2 linked regions of the Homo sapiens genome follow. The protein of the gene in region 2 purifies or fractionates together with the protein of the main gene of each other region. This does not show direct contact. Each region holds a gene or a part of one and is shown on either strand. Other genes may lie near its edges. The genes, in order: ANKMY2 and DNAAF1.

The links.
Region 1: the proteins of DNAAF1 (region 2) and ANKMY2 purify together in Homo sapiens (affinity purification with mass spectrometry; one large-scale study listed by BioGRID and IntAct). This does not show direct contact.

Annotation. Positions count from the first base shown.
Region 1 is NC_000007.14:16,607,518-16,611,338, forward strand, and holds part of ANKMY2 (ankyrin repeat and MYND domain-containing protein 2), read right to left. Parts: intron 3,247-3,821; coding exon 3,032-3,246; intron 2,249-3,031; coding exon 2,113-2,248; intron 1-2,112. UniProt on the Homo sapiens protein: May be involved in the trafficking of signaling proteins to the cilia.
Region 2 is NC_000016.10:84,169,200-84,173,020, reverse strand, and holds part of DNAAF1 (dynein axonemal assembly factor 1), read right to left. Parts: intron 3,163-3,821; coding exon 2,665-3,162; intron 762-2,664; coding exon 646-761; intron 1-645. UniProt on the Homo sapiens protein: Cilium-specific protein required for the stability of the ciliary architecture. Plays a role in cytoplasmic preassembly of dynein arms. Involved in regulation of microtubule-based cilia and actin-based brush border microvilli.

The sequences.
Region 1 (3,821 bases), on a different chromosome or scaffold from region 2:
AGATTGCGCCACTGCACTCCAGCCTGGGTAACAAAACAAGACCCCCCTCAATAAATAAATAAAAATAATAATAATTATACTCTATAAACTCTAATTACATTATTCTATTATATGGAGCTAGGATAACTTGTTGACCACAATATTGACCTGCTTTTTTTTTTTTTTTTTTTTTTTAAAGAACTCTGGGTTGCTGTTTTAGTTTTTCTGTTTTTTCCCAGGAAGGTAAAAGGTCAGCAACCATTTGTGAGTGCTGGAAATCCCACATAACAGGTACTGCTAGTTGCTTCTCTGATATCAATTCTCCCAGCTTCCTCAGTAACAGAAGTGTAATTTTGTTCAGAGGAGGAGTGTTTAGAAAAGCCAAAAAAAAAAATTTTCCTGGACTCCTGTGTAGCTAAGGAAAGTCATGTGACACAGGCAGAGGGCTTCTGGGAGAGCTTATGTTTTCCAGATATAGACCCCTTTGCTCTTCCTGCCTGCCTGGGATAGGAATGTGAGCTGGAGGAGGAACATCAAATGCCTCGTAACCATGAGATCATAAGTATGCATATGAGAACCTACACAGCTAAGGAATATTGGAAGGGAAAGATGAGAAAGTGTTTGGGTCCCCAAACTATTTTTAAGTCACTATGCCAGACCTAGTCTGCCTACCTTTGGGCATCTATGTATATGTGAATACATAAACCCTCATCTATTTAATTCATGGTTGGTTGGGCTTTGATATGTGCTGCCAAGACACATTTGTAATTGACAAATCATAATTTGCTAACTTTATTCTTCCAAAAGCATAAACACTAAATAGCCAACTATATTAAAAAGTATGAGTAAAGAAACTCTTGAAAATAGGGGGAGCACACATGAACAAATTAATGCATGAGCTTTATGAGATGGTCTTTTCTGCTCAGGTCTTTCTTGTTTATTTTATGGCTCAGACTAGGTGAATTCTTAATGTACAAAGGAGCATCTGGAGCCCACTTGAAGCCCTGATGTTCCACACTGAGAATGACATAACAACCCAGAGAGAAGGCACAGAGAAGGGAACCAGATTTGCCAGAGGGAGGGAGGAAGCCATGGATGGGACTGGTCTTAGGATCAATTTCTTGCCTGATAGACAAAAGCTGATCAAGTTTTTGATTGAAACGTATAAAAGCATGAATGGGTATAGATAGGGTAAACAAAAACCTATTCAAAATAGAAAAGGTGGCTGGGCGCAGTGGGTCATGCCTGTAATCCCAGCACTTTGGGAAGCCGAGGTGGGTAGATCACCTGAGTCAGGAGTTCGAGACCAACCTGGTCAACATGGTGAAATCCCATCTCTACTAAAAATACAAAAATTAGCTGGGCGTGGTGGCGCGCACCTATAGTCCCAGCCACTCAGGAGGCTGAAGCAGGAGAATCGCTTGAACCTGGGAAATGGAGGTTGCAGTGAGCTGAGATTGTGCCACTGCACTCCAGCCTAGGCGACAGAAACAGACTCTGTCGCAAAATAGAAAAGGCCAAATAAATTAAAATATATGACAAATGAATAGTAAGTCATTTAAATAACAGATAAAGTTAACAAAATACACTTATATAGTGGGTAAGTATAAATAGGTTGTAAGTATGGACATTTTCTAATCAGAGGCATTAAGGTGGATTATAGGAAGCTGAGGCATACTTTGAGATTGTTACCAGGAACCACAATGAGCCTTCCCATGGCTTATCCCACTACATCCCCACTGCCTGGACACTATCCCCCTAGGTGATCAATTCATACTTGCATCTAGTGTATGACTTTGTGCTGATAATTCATATAGCTACAAGTGTACATGTGTGTACCTATATTACATAGTGGATGTACTTAAAATGTAAGTTTCTACCCTAACCATCTACATTTCAACATAGCGACGTCCTGTTTATGAAACTATGAACCATAATAAGGTAAGAAGAGGATCGTGAGATGGGAAATAAATAAACAGGAACAGGTTTGGCAGGCAAACCTATCTCCACCTTTGTTCCTAAAAATATTCTGAAATAATAAAAATAAATATTAAAGAGAACTTGCCTTTAACAATACAATAGGTGGGAATTAGGTTTTACTGATAGAGTCAACTTAGGTAAGAGGAGCCTTACAATTTCAACAGGAGCAATGCTTCGAACCAGCTGCTGGAGGAGTGTAGCTTCACAGTAAGGAAATTTTCTGATACTTTCTCTAATGATCTTTTCTTGATACACTGGAAAGCCATCAGAAGCTCGGCCTTTTAACAAGCTGAAAGATATTTTTTAAAGCGTAATTGGAGTTGAATCACTAAGCATTCTCTCCTAGTTGAACCCAACAGTTTTTAGTAGTTTCTTCTGTTACTTATGATTTTCTTTGTCTCTTCAAATCATGATGACGGGCTCAGTTCAAATTGCTGTTCAACCTATATGTTAGGCTAGGCCTTATAAGGTTTTCCAGCCCATTAAATGAATATGCAAAGGTGACTACCACCATAAAACACACTAAACACTGTTATCAGATTAGCTAGTTACTTATTACCATGTCAGTTATTTGTACTAAGAATGAAAACTCTCATAGAGCCACACCCTTCAGACTTAGTTCCCTTTTCTAGGTAAGGATGCAAGAGAATTTGATCTCTGGTGGTCAGAGAAGCAGCATAACACACAGCTCTCCAAGATACAGTAACAGAGACACCCTGGATGCCATTACAAACCTAGGGCTGCGACCTAGGGCATAAAATATTCTCAAATTTGGACTTGGGCCACTTTCTCGCGGTGTGATCTTACACATGTTATTTAACCTCTCCAAACCTCAGATTCCTCATCTGTAAATTGCTGGTAACAACAAAAACATCACAGTAAAGGATACAGAACTGAATAATCACTCAATATAAGTATAATATTATTCTCTGTTTGTCAAAGACTAAATGTGAGTCCAACAACAGCAATTGCTGCCAAAATGTTTAATTTTGAAACACATAATAATGAGGCTTCATATTAAAAAAAATATTCACTTGAGTGTATTTTATAAACGACATAGTAAAAAGAGTACCTTTTGATCAAGGTGTCCAGTTTATTCTCTCCATCTTTTAAGAAGTTAATGCATTTCTGAAAGATACAGCTTATGTAATGCATCTTCATAGCCAATACTTCATTCATGTCTCTTTGCTTCATACATTTCTCACAAATCAAATCCATCACTCTGTAGCATTTATTCAGGGCTGCTTCTTCTGTCAGCAGAGGATTCTCATTTACAAGCATCACGATCTAGAGGAAATCCCAGTGTACTCAGGTATTAAAGGAGACACTTGTTCATGTACAAATTAGGTAGTCCATTTAGTTGATTTCAAAAGATTACCAAAGAAAGCCTTCCTTAGGATCATGAAGTTATTATGTTATTTGTTAGAATGCAAATTACCCAGAACTTATAGAACTAATATAGAAAGACCCTGAAATAGTGGAATCTCTTGAACTCTGTATATCAAAGTTATAATGTGATCTTCCATCTACCTACACCACAGTGCCAGTATGCCATTCAAGAGCACATGATTTTACAGTCTCTGTTAAATTCACTTTTACTAAAGATAAACATGACAAATTTGTACATTTTACATAAAGAATCAAATCATTGAGCAATAACCACTTTTAGTTAACATTACTCAGCTCTAGAATTTCATGGCTAGGAGAACTACAATTCTCATTAATTCTTATTAAGCACAAGAAAATGAGATTTTTTCAGAATGAAGTCTAAAAATGAAATATGCTTTACTTTCCAATTAACTATATTTCTCTATGGAAATTTTCCTGAAGATGCTTCCAATCATCTACAGTAATGAGAACAG
Region 2 (3,821 bases):
GGACAGTTCTTGGGGGGTTGTGAGACAATGTGTGAATTCCCATGGTACCATTCTTGTGGGCCTAAGCATTTGAGACTGTCAACAAAATGGGAAGAGCTTCAGGGAAGAGTGACAGGCAAGGCTGCGATCAAACATTCACTCAAGGGGATGGGACACTGAACCGTCACACCTCCATGAGCCAGAAGGCCAGTGAGAGCCTAAGCTACCTGCTGGGCGGTGTCCACGGAGGGGGGAAAAGATACAATGTATAAAGATACAATGTAACTGATGATACAATGTAACTCTCACCACGAATTTGGATAAGGCAACTAGTCAGAACCACTTAGCAAGATAGCTTCTTTGGCAAAAAGGAATCAAGAGTTTGGTAGACATGGTTCAAGGGTAGCGATTTGGGTCAGGGCTCCCCAAACTTGAGCATGCATGTGCACGAATCACCTAGGGCAGTGCATGAAAGTTGGATTCTAATCAGTGGGCCTGGGGTGAGGCCTGGGAGTCTGCATTTCTAACCAGCGCCCCAGAAATGCCAGGCCTGCCGGCCCAAGGACCACACTTGGGGTATCGAGGGTCTCCAAAGTCTGCATCTGATTACCTATTTTACTAACAGTAAAACTGATACTTATCTCCAAGATTAAATACTTCATGTACATCAATGCAGAATGTCTCCTTTGTCTCCAGTCTAATGGTTTCTAAATCTTCCGTTCTCGTTCCATCAAGTTCTGTAACGAATACACCCTCAGTGGCCACAGCCTGGGGAGTCGGTTCTAAAGAGCAACAACAAGTCTTGGAGTTAGTTTAACACACGGCAGGCAGATGGACGAGCCTACGGTGAAGATGGGCTCCCAAGGGCCGGGCTCGGTGGCTCATGCCTGTAATCCCAACACTTTGGGGGGCCAAGGTGGGCGGATCACAAGGTCAGAAGTTTGAGTCCAGCCTGGCCAACACAGTGAAACCCCCGTGTCTATTAAAAATGCAAAAATTAGCCAGGTGTGGTGGCGGGCACCTGTAGTCTCAGCTACTTGGGAGGCTGAGGCAGGAGAATAGCTTGAACCTGGGAGAGGGAGGTTGCAATGAGCCGAGATTGTGCCACTGCACTCCAGCCTGGGTGATAGAGCGAGACTTCATCTCAAAAAAAAAAAAAAAAGACAAAAACCCTCCTCAGGGCCCAAAGGCCAGCCTCCATGACAAACACGGCAGCTCACCACAGGCTTCTGTCTGCTGGAAAAAGAACGGAACGGCTGCCCTTTTCTGTAATCTGGAGGCGAATCCCATGAGATGAAGAGCACCGGCCAGGAGTCAAAGCAGCAGCCGCAGGAATCTTGGAAATGGCAGCCGACTGCAGGGTGACAAGGGATGCCAGCAGGGGCGACTCGCTCAGAGACGGAGGGGCAGGCTTCACAGCCCACCGCCAGCCTGTCCCTCAGCCAGGCACACGCCCCTCCTGCTGCACCAGGGTCAGAGCTTGTGCAGTTTCATAACTGTGAGATCGCCTGAGGAATGTGGAATCGCGAGGAGCCCCTTCCTCATCCAGGCCCCTACTTTTCCTTTTTATTTACTTATTTTTATTTTGTTGATACAGGGTCTCACTCTGTCACCCCGGCTGGAGTGCAGTGGTGCAATCTCAGCTCACTGCAGCCTCGACCTCCCATCCCCTTCCCCTCCCACCTCAGCCTCCCAAGTAGCTGGGACTACAAGTGGTCACCACTATGCCCAGCTAATTTATTGTTTTTTGTAGAGGCTTGGGGGTTGCGGGGAAGGGGGCTTCTCACTATGTTGGCCAGGCTGGTCTCGAACTCCCGGCCTCAAGCAATCTGCCTGCCTCGGCCTCCCACAGTGCTGGGATTACATGTGTGAGCCACCTCGCAAGGCCTGCCCCTACTTTTCCCCCGGGCTGTATCCTTGGGTCCTGTGCTCTGATCCCTCCATTGCTCTCGGGGCTTCGTTTATGTCAGAGATGAATGGCCTACCTTTCACCAGTAAAAAGTTACCGTTCAGCCATGTCAAATACATACTGGATTTTGATGACTTAATTTTTGAAAAAAGTAAAATAGCTCACTGATAATTTTTATATTGATTCCATGTTAACATGATTATATTTTTTATATATTGCGTTAAATTAAACATGTCATTAATAGTTTTACTGTTTTTTTACTTTTTACTTTTTAATTAATTTATTAATCAATTTATTTTTTGAGGGAGGGTCTCACTCTGTCACCCAGGCTGGAGTGCAGTGGCACAATCTTGGCTCACTGCAGCCTCAACCTCTGGGGCTCAAGCAATCCTCTTGCCTCAGCCTCCTGAGTAGCTGGGACTACAGGGGCACACCACAATTCCCAGCTAATTTTTGTAGTTTTGGTAGGGATGAGGTCTCTGTATTTCTGAGGCTGGTCTGAAACTCCTGGCCTCAATCAGTCCTTCTGCCTTGGCCTCCCAAAGTTCCTTTTGCTTTTTTAAATAGAGCTATTAGAGAATCTAGTAGTGGCTCCTGTTCCATTTCTGTTGGGCAGCCCTGTTCTAGAAAACAAGATAACTAGTGTCCATTATCTTCTAGAAACAGCAATACAGAAGAAGTGAAACTCAGGCCCCAGGTCCCACAGAGACGTGAGTCGAAGGCTGGGGCTCCCTGAGAGGTGTGTGTGTCTGTGTGTGTTTCTCCGCTCACATTACCTTCCCTGGCAGCTCCCAGGGGCGGTGGTGGTGGGGCCTCAGCTGGGAGGGTCCCCTCTGGCTCTCGATCTCCATCCTCTCCTTTAACCTTCACAGGCGGTGACAGTAGCAGGGTCTCAGCTGGGAGGGTCCCCTCTGGCTCTTGATCTCCATCCTCTCCTTTAACCTCCACAGGTGGCGGGGGTGGTGGGGCCTCAGCTGGGAGGGTCCCCTCTGGCTCTCCATCTCCGTCCTCTCCTTTAACCTCCACAGGTGACGACAGTAGCAGGGTCTCAGCTGGGAGGGTCCCCTCTGGCTCTGGACCTCCATCCTCTCTTTTAGCCTCCACAGGCGGCTCCTCTCCACTTGGCTTTTCCGGGCAGAGCTCGTCCTTGGCCTCAAAGCTTTCCTTAACAAATAGCTCCATCTTCTGCCTTGTTTCTCTGTCCCCGGGAGGCTCCTCCTTGCCTTCCGCACTGGCGGGCACATTCTCACCATCATCTGAAGATGTCATCTCCCCTAATGGCAGAAAATGCAAAGGTGAATGTGGGAGTGTCCTGGGAGGACAAGGGTGTTTGTGGGTACATCAAGGGCTCACAGCAAACTTCTGAGACCAGGGAAAAGGTCAGGAACACAGTTAAAAAAGTGTCCTCAAGGGGCTGGGCGCGGTGGCTCGTGCCTGTAATCCCAGCACTTTGGGAGGCCGAGGAGGGTGGATCACTTGAGGCCAGGAGTTCAAAACCAGGCTGGCCAACATGACGAAACCCCATCTCCACTAAAAATACAAAAAATTACTCGGATGTGGTGGCACGTGCCTGTAGCCCCAGCTACTCAAGAGGCTGAGGCAGGAGAATCGCTTGAACCTGGGAGGTGGAGGCTGCAGTGAGCCAAGATCGCGCCACTGCACTCCAGCCTGGGAGACAGAGCGAGACTCTGTCTCCAAAAAAAATTATAAATAAATAAGGAACATAGTTTAAAAAGTGTCCTCGAGGCGCTGGGCATGGTAGCTCATGCTTGTAATCCCAGCATTTTGGGAGGCCCAGGCAGGTGGATCATTTGACATCAGGAGTTCAAAACCAGCCTGACAAACATGGTGAAACCTCATCTCTAGTGAAAAAAAAATACAAAAAAATAATAATAGCTGGGCGGGGTGGCACATGCCTATAATCCCAGCTACT